Linked DNA regions of Homo sapiens. The protein of the gene in region 1 purifies or fractionates together with the protein of each later gene. This does not show direct contact. Each region holds a gene or a part of one and is shown on either strand. Other genes may lie near its edges.

Region 1 (3,500 bases):
TCTTTTACTCAATGATATTAGCATCCATTGATCCGTGCCTGAATCAATTATTTTATTGATTGGAGGTTAGTTTTCAAGAAATCATTCCAATTTAGCTTATCCTTTTAGTTTCTAAAATTCACTAGACTGGCTAGGTGCAGTGACTGATGCCTATAATCCCAGCACTTTGGGAGGCCAAGGCGGGAGGATCACTGGAGTCCAAGAGCTTGAGACCAGCCTGAGAAATATAGTGAAACCTCATCTCTACAAAAAATAAACAAAATTAGCTGGATGTGGTGGCGCATGCCTATGGTCCTAGCTACTTGGGAGGCTGAGTTGGGAGAGATTGCTTGAGTCTGGGAGGTCGAAGCTATAGTATGCCAAGATTGCACCACTGCACTCCAGCCTGGATGACAGAGCAAGACTCTGTCTCAGTCAATCAATACAAAATTCACCAGACCATAGGATGATGTCCTTTTCTTGCCCACCTCACCAAACTGCTACATGGTGAGTTTAGACACAGGGTCTTGCGTTGTTGCTCAGGCCGGTCTTGAATTCCTGGGTTCAAGTGATCCTCCTGCCTTGGCCTCCGAAAGTGCTTGGATTACAGGTGAGAGCCACTGCACCTGGCCTTCTGGAAGATTTTTAGTGACTAAGTGTCTGCTTTGATCTTGCTTCTGTTTCCTAAATGAATGCTTTTGGATGTTATATCTATAAAGAACACACTGAACTCATAAGCTCCTAGCCTTTAGGTTCTTTCTCCATCCCTACCTTGGTACACAGAAGAAGGCAGTCTTTAATCTAAGTGAAAGAAAGTTCAGGCTATCTTCAGTATTCATTGTTTTAAGGTGGGCATGTAGCTTCTGCTGCTATAATCAGTATAGGGAAAGATTTTCTTTTCACTGTGATCCTCAATGCATATAGCCTTTAGATTTCACAAACAACAAATTATAATGCCTTAGGCTGGGCATGGTGGCTCATGCCTGTAATTCCAGTAGTTTGGGAGGCTGAGGGCGGGTGGATCACCTGAGGTCAGGAGTTCAAGACCAGCCTGGCCAACATGGTGAAAACCCACCTCTACTAAAAATACAAAAATTAGCTGGGCCTAGTCGTGGGTGCCTGTAGACCCAGCTACTCGGGAGGCTGAGGCAGGAGAATTGCTTGAACCCAGGAGGCGGACATTGCAATGAGCTGAGAATGTGCCATTGCACTCCAGCCTGGGCAACAAGAGCAAAACTCCGTCTCAAAAAAAAATTATAAGGCCTTAAATAATTTGTTATTTTTTTGTAGTATAACAAAGTTTGACTTCTGCTGATAGTAAAAAATGGTTTTATATGTATTTTTTTCTTATTAAAAGAAATATGTTTGACTATATTCTTGGCTACACATCCTCAAATATAACTTTCAGAAAGTTAACAGCTTGGCTTCTTTTTAGACTAAAAATTTATCAGCAAATTTCGTTTTCTTGAAATCCCTTGATATATTTTGCTGGTATACTTTAATATTGCAAATACATTCTAGATATTGGTACAACATGTTTCATTTTTTTCATTTGTTTCTTAGAAAAATAAAAGAATTCTAAAAAGCTCACCAATGAAAAATGATTGCAAGTTGAAGCATTTAAAAATTGATATTATAGCTGTTCTTTTTCTCATATGGAATAAACTATTTGACTACATTGATATAATATTTAAGAACATGTGGATTTCCTTTTCATATTTTTTTAGTCTGAATGCTTTTTATCACATTGGCAATTTTATTGTTCTAGTCTTCTCATTGAACATGTATTAAATCTTATAACTTCTTTCTTCCTTTTCCCTGTCTCTTCCTTTTTCTTTGCTTTATTGTTCCTCCAATTTTATCCCTTCACATCAGACAAGGCTCACAGGCTAAAGATGAAAAAATTAGGATTATTTCAGCTTTCTCTGATGTTGACTATGAAGAGCAAGAAGATATACATAAGGAGATAGAGGGGAAAATATCACAAGAGTTTCTAGAAAATAATAACATAAACTTGAAGGAAGCAGAGATAAAAGAAATTAGAACCCTTTCAAAAGCTGATAAATACTACAGCCAACAAAAACAACCAAAGTATAAGAACAGGAAAAAGATACCACCTCAGAGCCAACAAACAGAATTCTCTACTGAGTTTAAGGTTGAAACTTCTGTTTTCTCCAGGTATGCTCAGAAATATGATACACTAGATAGAAGAAGAAAAAAGAAATCCTTATACAATCATTTTGAAGACAGTGAAAGAAGGCAATATGGTGAGAGATCTGAAACTAAGACTAACTACAAAAGTACATATTCTAATACTGAAAATTGTACCCTTTGCCATACTGAAAAGAAACAAAATATGGGGTACCCAGTTTTGTACCCCTACAAAAATGGATTTGTGGTTAAGAGTGGCATGCAGCGCATTAAGTTGGAAAGTCATGATTATGATCTGTCCAGTTGTTTAAGGCACTGTGAAAAGTCATCTGGCTCAAACCAGCATGTCACTAATTTTACCTCATTAGATATTCTTGAAGATTCTACTAGTAGTACTTCTGATGAACTTCTGGGTTCCCCCATTTCTGATAAGCAGGAAAATTTACAGTCACCAACATGGCATTCATCCAATGTCCACCATATTGGAGATTTTCCTGAGGAATATTATGTAGCAAATTCAGCATTGCCATTACAAAGGATGAATTGTGATGCAAAAACACTTGGAGATCTGTCTGAGTGCTCTATAGAAGAGATAACCCCTTCCTCTATTGAGGAGCCCAAGGAGGACCGTATTGATACAATGGATGAGCTTCAGTGTTTGGTAGAAACGGTGTCAGAATATTTAGCAGAGAAGGAAGAGGAGATTAATAGATTTGGTTCACTTTCAAAAACTAAAAAATCACATAAACAAAATAGTACTCTTGATGCAGAACAGAGAACGCCTGGGGATCAAATACCACCTTTAACTATTGTCAAGAATGACAAGGACACGGCCATCTCTTTCCCTGAGTTGACTGGAGTACAATGTGCTGTTGGTTCTTTGTTTAGTTCACTCACAGAAAAAGTGGGTTCAGGCACAAAGCATCTAACAAACTCTGTGGAAAAGTTGGTTTCCTTAGTTCCAGAAAAAACAGAAACTCTTAATCAAATAGAGGCAATTAATTTGGGATCTAAACCCAGAGCCATGGCAGTATTGGGGAAGGATCTTTCCATGCAATCTCCATTATCCTCTCAAAAAGATGATAATGTGAATATAGACAGACATAGAAAAACCTCTGAAAATGAGCACATGGGTAATAAAACTGGGAGTTTATACTTTCAGAATACAACAGAAAGTATTGCAAAGGACTTGGCTCCACAGAGTCAGAGTTCAGTTATAAAGTCGGTTTTCAGCAGGTTAAATCCATTGAAGATCTTTTCAGAAAAGGAGGAAACAAAAAAAGATGATGACCAGAGTAAGCCACCAAGAAAAGAAAGCTTTGTTGAGTGTGGTTTGGAGTTAAATAAAAGGGAAGGCACTCTTGACAATT
Region 2 (3,500 bases), on another chromosome or scaffold:
TACTCCAACCTCACCCTCCTGGCAGCAGTGATAAGTTCTGCCAGTTAGTGTTCCATGTGGAACTGCTGAGACTTTATTAGGAGAAATGCCATTAAAAATAATAAGATACCAAAGGTGGAAGACACAGCCCATAAAACAAGAGTATGAGGGGCAAGGTGGTTGGCAGGCTTCAAGACAAAGGTAGACAAATAACTTTCGGAGTTCAGAGGGAAGATACAAGCCAAAAGAGTACCAAGGTGACATTTTAAAGAACTGTCCACTTCCACTTTGTCTGCCTGGTTTTATATGAAGTGCTGTCAGCACAGCCTTTTCAATCATGTTGCCTGGATTGAACATAACTCACTTTCATATGTACCTTTAATTTCAGATCCCAACCTTTGTCCTCCTAATTCCTACAAAGTAAACTAAACAGACCAGCAAATGTTGACTTAACGATTACATTTTTACATAGAAGGATATAGAACTTACCACTCTTTTTTCCCTGAAATCAATGCCCACTGTTGTGATAAATTTGGAGTTAAATTTACCATCTGTATATTGGTAAAGTACACTGGTCTTCCCTACACCAGAGTCTCCCAAAGCTAAAAACTTGATGAGGTAATCATAATCTCCATCAGACATAATGAAGAACTCAGTAGTTCACCTGTAAAATACACACAAAATTTTTTAATTAAAATCCATTAGAAAACATTAATTATCCATTTAAAAAGTGACAACAATATTCAGTTTAACACCTAATGTTAACCTGTATGTCTACGGGTTGTATGAAAAGAGAGTTACATACATATTGTTCACCATCCTTGAAGACCTAATAACTAGCTAGATGAGAAGCTATTGAAATAGTAATTAACAGTGTAGTTTTAATTTAACACACAGGTAATCCCAGCACTTTGGGAGGCCAAGGTGGGCAGATCACCTAAGGTTGGGAATTCGAGACCAGCCTGACCAACATGGAGAAACCCCATCTCTACTGAAAATACAAAAATTAGCCAGGCATGGTGGTGCATGCCTATAATCCCAGCTACTCAGGAGGCTGAGGCAGGAGAATCACTTGAACCTGGGAGGTGGAGGTTGCAGTGAGCCAAGATTGCGCCATTGCACTCCAGCCTGGGCAACAAGAGCAAAACTCTGTCTCAAAATAAAAAAATAAATAAAAATAAAAATAAAAATAAAAACATACATATTATAGTACCATTAGGACAAAAATTTCAAGTGGGAATGATAATCAACAAGAAGGTAACAGTCACTAAGTCTTATCTGTAGACCATATAGAACAAAAACTAATACAAGAAAAACAGAGGAAAGAGAATGTTATAAGGAATAACAGTAATCATTAGAGTGCAAGTGGTTCCAATTTCCCCTCCTTTTTCAAAGTCTCCTAGTGCTAAAATTTGCAATTGCAAACATAAGGAACCAGTCCAAATGCTCACCAGTCAATGAGTAGATAAAGAAATTGTGGTACACCACAATTTTTTTATCTGTATATATATACACACACCACGGAATACTACTCAGCCACAAAAAGGAACGAAATAATGGCATTCACAGCAATCTGGATGGAATTGAAGACAATTATTCTAAGTGAAGTAAGTCAGGAATGGAAAACCAAACATCATATGTTCTCACTCATATGTAGGAGTGAAGCTATGAGGAAGCAAAGGCATAAGAATGATACAATGGACTTTGGGGACTCGGGTGGAAAGGGTGGGAGGCGGGTGAGGGATAAAAGACTACAGATTGAATACAGTGTACACTGCTTGGGTGATGGGTGCACCAAAATCTCAGAAATCACCACTAAAGAACTTATCCATGTAACTAAACACCACCTGTTCCCCAAAAACCTATGGAAATAAAAAAAAAAGAAAGAAAGAAAGTCTCCTAGTGCTAGAACCTTGCCTTTTCTCTCTTTTTACATGGACATCTAGGCAATTTCATTTATTCTATTCATTTTCACATGTTATTACGGTTCCTTCAAAGACACTGTTATTTCACAAGTAAATTTAGTCCCTGCTTCCTTACATATTACTATTAATATGTACTACATATTAAGCCAGACTTCTCTAGAGTATCACTGCTCACTTGGGAACTGAGTTCCAGATTTGAACAGTCACTGCTCAGAGACCACAGTGCCACAACCAAGGGCTCGCTTACCTATGTTTACCTGGGTACTCTATCAAGAACTGCTAAAAATTCAGCTCTTCAGTACCGACTAAAACAAAAGTCCACCTTAAAGAAGAAAAATTCATTTATATCAGCAATACCTAACCACGGCTATTTTTGGTTCTTTGCAATCAGCACTTTTCATGATTTGTATTTACCTTCTAAATAGATTCAAACCCAAAATATCAGTCCAACTAGAAATGGGATCTCTCTCCAGGGGAGGTTTACTTTTTCATTAAAATTTTATTGATACATAATATTTGTATATTTTTATGGGGTACATGTAATATTTTGTTACATGCATAGAATGTAATGATCACATGAAGGTATTTAGGGTATTTATTTCCTCGAGTATTTATCATTTCTATGCATTGAGAACATTTCAAGTCCTCTCTTCTAGCTATTTTAAAATACACAATACATTTTTGTTAACTATAGTCACCCTAGTCTACTGTTGAACATTAGAACTTATTCTTTCCATCTAACCATATGCTTGTACACATTAACCAACCTCTCTCCGTTTCCCCCGCCAATGCCAATAAACTCTCCTGAAAATCATAAAAACAACTAGCTATCTCATTAACACTGACGACTCTACATGACTATTCAAACATACATATTTATCCATCTATACACATGCCAGATGTCCTACATTGGATGCTACTGACTCCCGGCGTTATCCCCTTTTTACCCAGCACCATATCCAGAAACTTGGCTGCCATATTCAGTGCTTCCTGTAGGACTATTTCTATATATCCATAAAATTAATAAAAACTCAGACAAGAATATTTACTGGTTTTCAGTGTTACCTCCCTCACCCCATCCTCAACTTGGGGACTCACCTTATGCTGAAAACTCCTGAATGCTGAGCCCCAAAAGCCACTGCAGTGTGTTTCCTCAGAGTGCTTCAGTGCAGATCTGCAACCTCACGTTTCAGGTATGGCTAGCCCGTGGATAAGGGCAGAGCCTCTACAAACATTCAAAATTCTATTTGCACACTATAAAGAGTGACACTTCACAGATGATGCCTTACCTGTCTTTATAGCTTGGATATTTGCAAGTATAGGTCACCAGTATTAATGACATATAACAGAATTCCTCTCCAAAAAACGACAACTTGGACATCAACATTATAGCACGTCATATCACAGCATCACACCTGGCTCTAAGTTATTGGAAATAAGAGCTAAGAATTGAAAAGCAAGTCCAGATAATGTTGACTCATTTGAGGGCTTCCCCTCAAACTGAATGGAGCAGCAGATAACAATACCGATCCTGCAGTGAGAATGATGCAAGAAGACACTGTGACTACCTTATTTCCTATTTATTTTTAATTTGAA
Region 3 (2,333 bases), on another chromosome or scaffold:
GGAGGAAGGAATATATCTATCTAGTAAGAATTTTAATGTATCATTATTCCTTTATGTCTTCAAGCAGGCCTTCTGATAGGAAGTGAAAACAGTTATCAACTAATTTGGATATTAAATACATCATTCAATAGTTCAATGAATAAAAGATAAAAGTTAAAAGGGCTTTTTCCAAGTATGAGTCAAATTCTATACTTCATTTAAGAAGTGTTTTTTTATCTTGAGATTTTATATAAGATCCACAGTCAGGGAGGTTACCAGAGCTTGCCAGCAAAGTTGGAAGGCCCAGTGGTTACAATACCTGAGGATGTAAAGTGACTAGTAGTTTGGCAGGTAACTGTGAAATTACATTAAGCCAGGTAAGTTAAAGATCTTTGAACTCCAGTATACATAAAAGAAGTCTCTGAGATGTTTTGGCAGTGCTTTTATTACTAGGGCTAAGTCAATTCTGGAGGCCCTTACTACTTTTTCAAGTTCCAGAATTTTCTGACTCAAGTTTTCTGCAAGTGAAGGTTTCTTCTAGGCTCCATAGGAGCCCGGAGGGGACTCAGGGATGCCAGCCAACACAGAGGCAACTTCAGTCACCTGTGTAGAGAACCGTGCTTGGTACTGTCGCCAAGAGATCCTTGGTACATTCAAGAGTGTAGAGTGCTGACTTTGGAAGGCGATGGTACCACTTCTGAGGAGAAGCTCCGTAAGAGGTTTGAGGCAAATTGGAGGAGCCTCCTAAGTTAAATGTGTATCCAGACCTATTGCTTAAAAACAAAGTTCCTAGTGCAGATGATACACACTTGGAGAAATCAAAGTCTTTAAAAAGCAGTATGCAAACGAGAACATCTCTTCACAAGAAAGAAACATTTAAAATACACATCTTCGTTTCATTGTAGACACCGGCAGCTATTCTTCATCCACTGATTGAAGCTTTCCACATTTCTCTGGAAGGCTTGCACTTAATATTTTATTGCTTTTGTTTCCAAATTCAGAGGGAGAGGCAGGTTCATCTGTTTCATAATCTTCAAAGCTGAAATAACAAAGCAAAAGTGAATTAACTGATTGATTGATTAAAGTTTGGGTAGAAATCAATATGGCAAATCCGAGCCTCAAGACCAGCCCACAAAGGTACCTTGAATTGCTAAATGGAGGCCGTGAGCAACTCAACTGCCGTGAAGGAGGCAACACTCTAGAGCAGAAAACACATTCTTCTCCCTGTTCCTTAAAGCTTAAGTCCATGTCAGAATTTGTTGAAAATGTTCCGTATCAAGCTTTCCCTAGGGTGGTTGGTGGGAGTGAGAGAATTACAGATGGTGCTAGGTAAAGAAAAATTTGAGGTCCATGAAGTATGAGCATTACTTGACCTTATTAAAAGTGGTTTCCACTCAGAGTGGCAAACCTTTTTTTTTTTTGAGACGGAGCCTTGCTCTGTCACCCAGTCTGGAGTGAAGTGGCACGATCTTGGCTCACTGCAACCTCTGCCTCCCAGGTTCAGGCGATTCTCCTGCCTCAGCCTCCTCAGTAGCTGGGACTACATGCATGCGCCACCACACCTGGCTAAGTTTTGTATTTTTAGTAGAGATGGGGTTTCACCATGTTGGCCAGGCTGGTCTGGAACTCCTGACCTCAGGTGATCTGCCCACTTTGGCCTCTCAAAGTGCTGGGATTACAGGCTTGAGCCACTGGTCGGCCAGAGTGGCAAACTTTCTCAACTCTCAGATTGCTTTATAGCTTCCCTCCGTGGCTTCCAAGCAACACAAAAAGATGTTCAAGTATGTAGGTTGAACTGACTAAAGTGCATTTATGGATTTCCCATCATTCTACTTTTTAGGTCTCTATAGCATACCTGGACCTGGATACTCATCCTGGGAAGATGTCCTTCTGCTAAACCTTTTAGGTGTTGCTGGTATCCCCTGAATTCTGTATCCTCCAGGCTACCCCTAAGGTTGGCTTTAGGCAGAGATGAAATATTTTCTCTTGGAAATGATGTGGCTGCCTGAAATATTGATAAATATTCTGAGGCTATATCTCTGAGCCTCATATGTAGATATGTACATCAGAAAAATGTACATCAGCAATGTCTATTATAGTATTTGACATCACTGGCTTAGCCCTTGCAGGGATCTCCCACAATATTTAAGCAGGAATTTGTGGACATACAGTCCCTTCATCAAAAAGGTACCAATTGGGGCCAATTAGTGAGGGAAAATATGCTGAGGTAGGTATATACAGTAAGTGGCACCTATTCAAGTTCCTAAAACATTGTGTGTGTTTTTTCTTTTGAGATGGAGTCTCGCTGTGTCGCCCAGGCTGGAGTACAGTGGGGCCATCTTGGCTCATTGCAA
Region 4 (3,500 bases), on another chromosome or scaffold:
GGACCCAGGGATACTGTCAGCTCCTCAAGTCACTTTTAGAAGGTCAGAGAAAAATTGTTTTGATCGTTAGTTACTGAAAAATGGTCAAACTGTGGCAGACTGGGGCATTCTTCCAAGAGGACTCCTTTAAACAGATTTCAATCCATACCACTAACCTACACTGTCACCAAACAGAGGGTGTGTGTGCTGCATGCTGACAGCTCTTTCCAGCATCTCCAGAAACTTCTCCAAGTAGCAAAGCAGTGCAGTTTAAAATGTTAGAATTTGGCCAGGCTCAGTGGCCCACGCCTGTATTCCCAGCACTTTGGGAGGCCAGAGTGGGCAGATGACTTGAGGCCAGGAGTTCGAAACCAGCCTGGCCAACATGGCAAAACCCTATCTCTACTAAAAAGACACAAATTAGCAGGGCACAGTGGCACGCACCTGTAATCTCAGCTACTTGGGAGGCTGCGGCAGGAGTATTGCTTGAACCCGGGAGGCGGAGGTTGCAGTGAGCTAAGATCACGCCACTGCACTCCAGCCTGGGCGATGAAGCGAGACTATGTCTCAAAAATAAAATAAAATGTGAGAATTCCATATACAAACACATGTGTGATCACATCACCATCAAGATACCGCAGGCCAGTCCTCCCTGTGATGAGGTGACACGGCCCCGCATGGCTCCACGATGGCCCCAGACAGCCTTCCCGGTCTACTCGCTGAGGCGCTTAGGTGCTCCTCCACCTGTTTTCCCACCTCTGGTGTGCAGCTTTGCTGACGTCACACGAACTTCATGGGGCTGACAGGGTGAGGGCTGCCGGGTGTTCATCTGGTGGGTGGCAAAACCCCAGCTGGCCCTCAGTCCCGACGCCCACAACGGGCAGTACCCAGGGGCCAGGCACATCACCCACCAACGTGCTTTAGCTGCTGTTTACTTGAAATTGACATACAAATCTCAGTTCTCTAAGAGAACCTGAATGCTCCCCACAGCCGTGGAAAACAGCCTGTTCAGGGCACTCGCAGTGGGGGAAAGTGCTCTGTCCTCTGTGATTCTGTTGGTCTTTTGTTCTAACAAGATAGTTGGGATTCTGTGATTCTTTTGTTTTTGATAAGGTCCTAGGTTCAGAAGGAGGGGCAGCTTTCGAACAGCGGTGCATGGTAGGTCTGACCCTAACAACAGAAGCAACCAGGGAACGTTTATAGGCCCCTGGCCATGCCGGGCAGTCTGGGAGCTTACAGATATTAACTCAGGTCTCCCCACCACGACATGTCAACACAGCATTCTTATCCCCCCACTTCACACAGGAGGACTGAGGTAAGAGACCCTGCACCCTCTTCTTCCCCATGGACTCTGGTCAGTGTGCCCCTGGGCTGAGGCCCCAGCTTTCTCTCCTGGATCTGTGACTCGGGGTAGGGTCAGCAGAGACACCACCAGGTGCTCACAGCAACAGCAACAGCAACAATGCCTCCGGGGAGGCAGGAGGCAGATGGGAAGGTGACCTGCGGCTGCCCCAACCCAGGGACCCTCCCTACTGGGCATCGCTGTGGGGGCCCTGGAAGTTCTGCCTACAAGACTGTCATGGAAAGCCTTTTCTTTCAGGAGCATGATCCAAAGGTCACTGCACATCCCCTCCCAACCCTGTCCCAGTGGTGGGGTGTGGGGGACAATGAGCTGCTTGTCCTGTGTGCTTCCAAGTGGGGCAAAACCAGGCAGCATCCTGCTGTTTAGCTGCACCTGAGATGATACCTGGGGGCTATGCGAGGAAACAGGACAGGAGATGTTCAGGAACGTGCCCAAGTCCAACAGCCATGACGCGGAGAGCCAGAACAGGACGTAGCAGCCTGGTCCGGGGCTGTGCTCCCACGGCCCCAGCCCTGCGCCCTCCCAGGGTGCTCAACTTCCAGCCCTGTCCTGTGCAGACACAGGGCCTCTCGAGCTGTGTGTCTGCAGGAACTCAAGCCACCAGCGTAGAAAACCAACTCCCCGTTCCAGAAGGAATCAAGCATGTGACGTTGAGCACACAGACACCCACTACGACTCCCCGACTCCCATACCCCACGGGGACAAAAGCATGAGCGTGGCCCTGCCTGATGCCTACCCAGCTGCTGGAGCTTGGGGAGCAGGTGCACAACAAAAAGGCGGTAGTCAGGCTCAACCTTCACCACGGGGTTCAGCCGGAAGTCCACATCCACGAGCTCGGTTAAGGCGTGGAGCCGAAACACTTCTGCCAACGAGGAGATGCAGTTGTAGTAGAGATTGAGACTCTCCAATGCAGTCAGGTACTGAATGCCCTGTCAACAGAAAACACAGTGAATTCATTCACACTTTAAACAAGAAATACACAGTGAAATAAGCCAGCAACACACACTGACCAACCAACTGTATAAACTTATTTGCAATAACTCCATGTCATTACCAGGAAAAGTAGAAAAATGAAACGTTCTCATCTGTGAAGTTCTCTGGGCCCCACGCGGTGAGACGGTCGTTTATGGAACCCACATGTGACGCAACTAAGCACAGCTAATATCTACCGAGGCCTCAGCGTGCAGCAAGCTGAGTGATGTGCACGCACAATTTCATTTAATCCACACGCCGCCCTACAGGGTGAGAACCATCAGCCCCCCCTTCACAGATGAGAAAGCTGAGGCCTGGGAACGGGGAAAGATGAGGCAGCACTGGGTGTAGCCTGGGCTAGGTCCGCATCTGACTTGGAGCAGACTCCCGAGCTGGTGTCAGACGTGGCCTCCATAATGCTCAGGCACCAGGCTCAGGGCAGGCGCATCCCACGGTTCTGTCCGGGCCAATCAGGCCATGCAGACGCAGCCTCCATAATGCTCAGGCATCGGGCTCAGGGCAGGCGCATCCCACGGTTCTGTCAGGGCCAATCAGGCCATGGTAGTTGTGCACAGCTCCCCTCACCACCACCTAGGCATCTCTCTCCAGGGTGACCCTGCCAGGAGCCCAGGAGGCAGCCCCAGGCCCACTGCACTGCCACTCAGTAAGTCTCTGGGGTCTCATTTCATTTCCTTTAAAGATATAATCATCGTCATCAGAGGGCGACAACACAACGTAACGTGATGTGTATGAAATGTAGCCCACGGTAAACACAAAAATACGCAACACAAAGTGTACCGTATACAGATGTAAGCAGAGGGTTACAAAACAGACTCCGTTTCTGCTGTGAATGGACTTTCCACTGATGTTGATAGCAATAAATTTTAAGAAAGAGACCTAAAACTTACCTCCAGACTAACCAAGGAGTTGCGCGAGAGATCCAAAGATTTCAGACCTGTTAAACTCATCAGAGAATGTCCCAGGTGGGTGATCTTCTCTTGGTAAGTTCCAGGAATAGACAATGACTGAAGCTCAGCTAAGAATAGAAAAATTGTAAGATTTTAATCTTTTATTTTGAAAACAATTATAATAACGGTCAAGTTCTTGGTGTTGGATATGGAGTAGAAACTGACACAGATTCTTGGTTTAATTCAACTTTACTCAGGCTCCTGAATCTTCTCCTCGG

The links. The genes of interacting proteins can lie anywhere in the genome.
Region 2: the proteins of UNC13B (region 1) and RAB27A purify together in Homo sapiens (affinity purification with western blotting, with the first as the bait; one study listed by BioGRID). This does not show direct contact.
Region 3: the proteins of UNC13B (region 1) and PPP2R3A purify together in Homo sapiens (co-immunoprecipitation; one large-scale study listed by IntAct). This does not show direct contact.
Region 4: the proteins of UNC13B (region 1) and CEP72 purify together in Homo sapiens (co-immunoprecipitation; one large-scale study listed by IntAct). This does not show direct contact.

What each region holds. Positions count from the first base shown.
Region 1 is NC_000009.12:35,298,009-35,301,508, forward strand, and holds part of UNC13B (protein unc-13 homolog B), read left to right. Parts: intron 1-2,157; coding exon 2,158-3,500. UniProt on the Homo sapiens protein: Plays a role in vesicle maturation during exocytosis as a target of the diacylglycerol second messenger pathway.
Region 2 is NC_000015.10:55,234,314-55,237,813, forward strand, and holds part of RAB27A (ras-related protein Rab-27A), read right to left. Parts: intron 3,130-3,500; exon of another isoform or gene 2,152-3,129; intron 644-2,151; 5' UTR 622-643; coding exon 469-621; intron 1-468. UniProt on the Homo sapiens protein: Small GTPase which cycles between active GTP-bound and inactive GDP-bound states. In its active state, binds to a variety of effector proteins to regulate homeostasis of late endocytic pathway, including endosomal positioning, maturation and secretion.
Region 3 is NC_000003.12:136,143,728-136,146,060, reverse strand, and holds part of PPP2R3A (serine/threonine-protein phosphatase 2A regulatory subunit B'' subunit alpha), read right to left. Parts: intron 1,019-2,333; coding exon 895-1,018; 3' UTR 1-894. UniProt on the Homo sapiens protein: The B regulatory subunit might modulate substrate selectivity and catalytic activity, and might also direct the localization of the catalytic enzyme to a particular subcellular compartment.
Region 4 is NC_000005.10:618,840-622,339, reverse strand, and holds part of CEP72 (centrosomal protein of 72 kDa), read right to left. Parts: intron 3,351-3,500; coding exon 3,223-3,350; intron 2,272-3,222; coding exon 2,079-2,271; intron 1-2,078. UniProt on the Homo sapiens protein: Involved in the recruitment of key centrosomal proteins to the centrosome.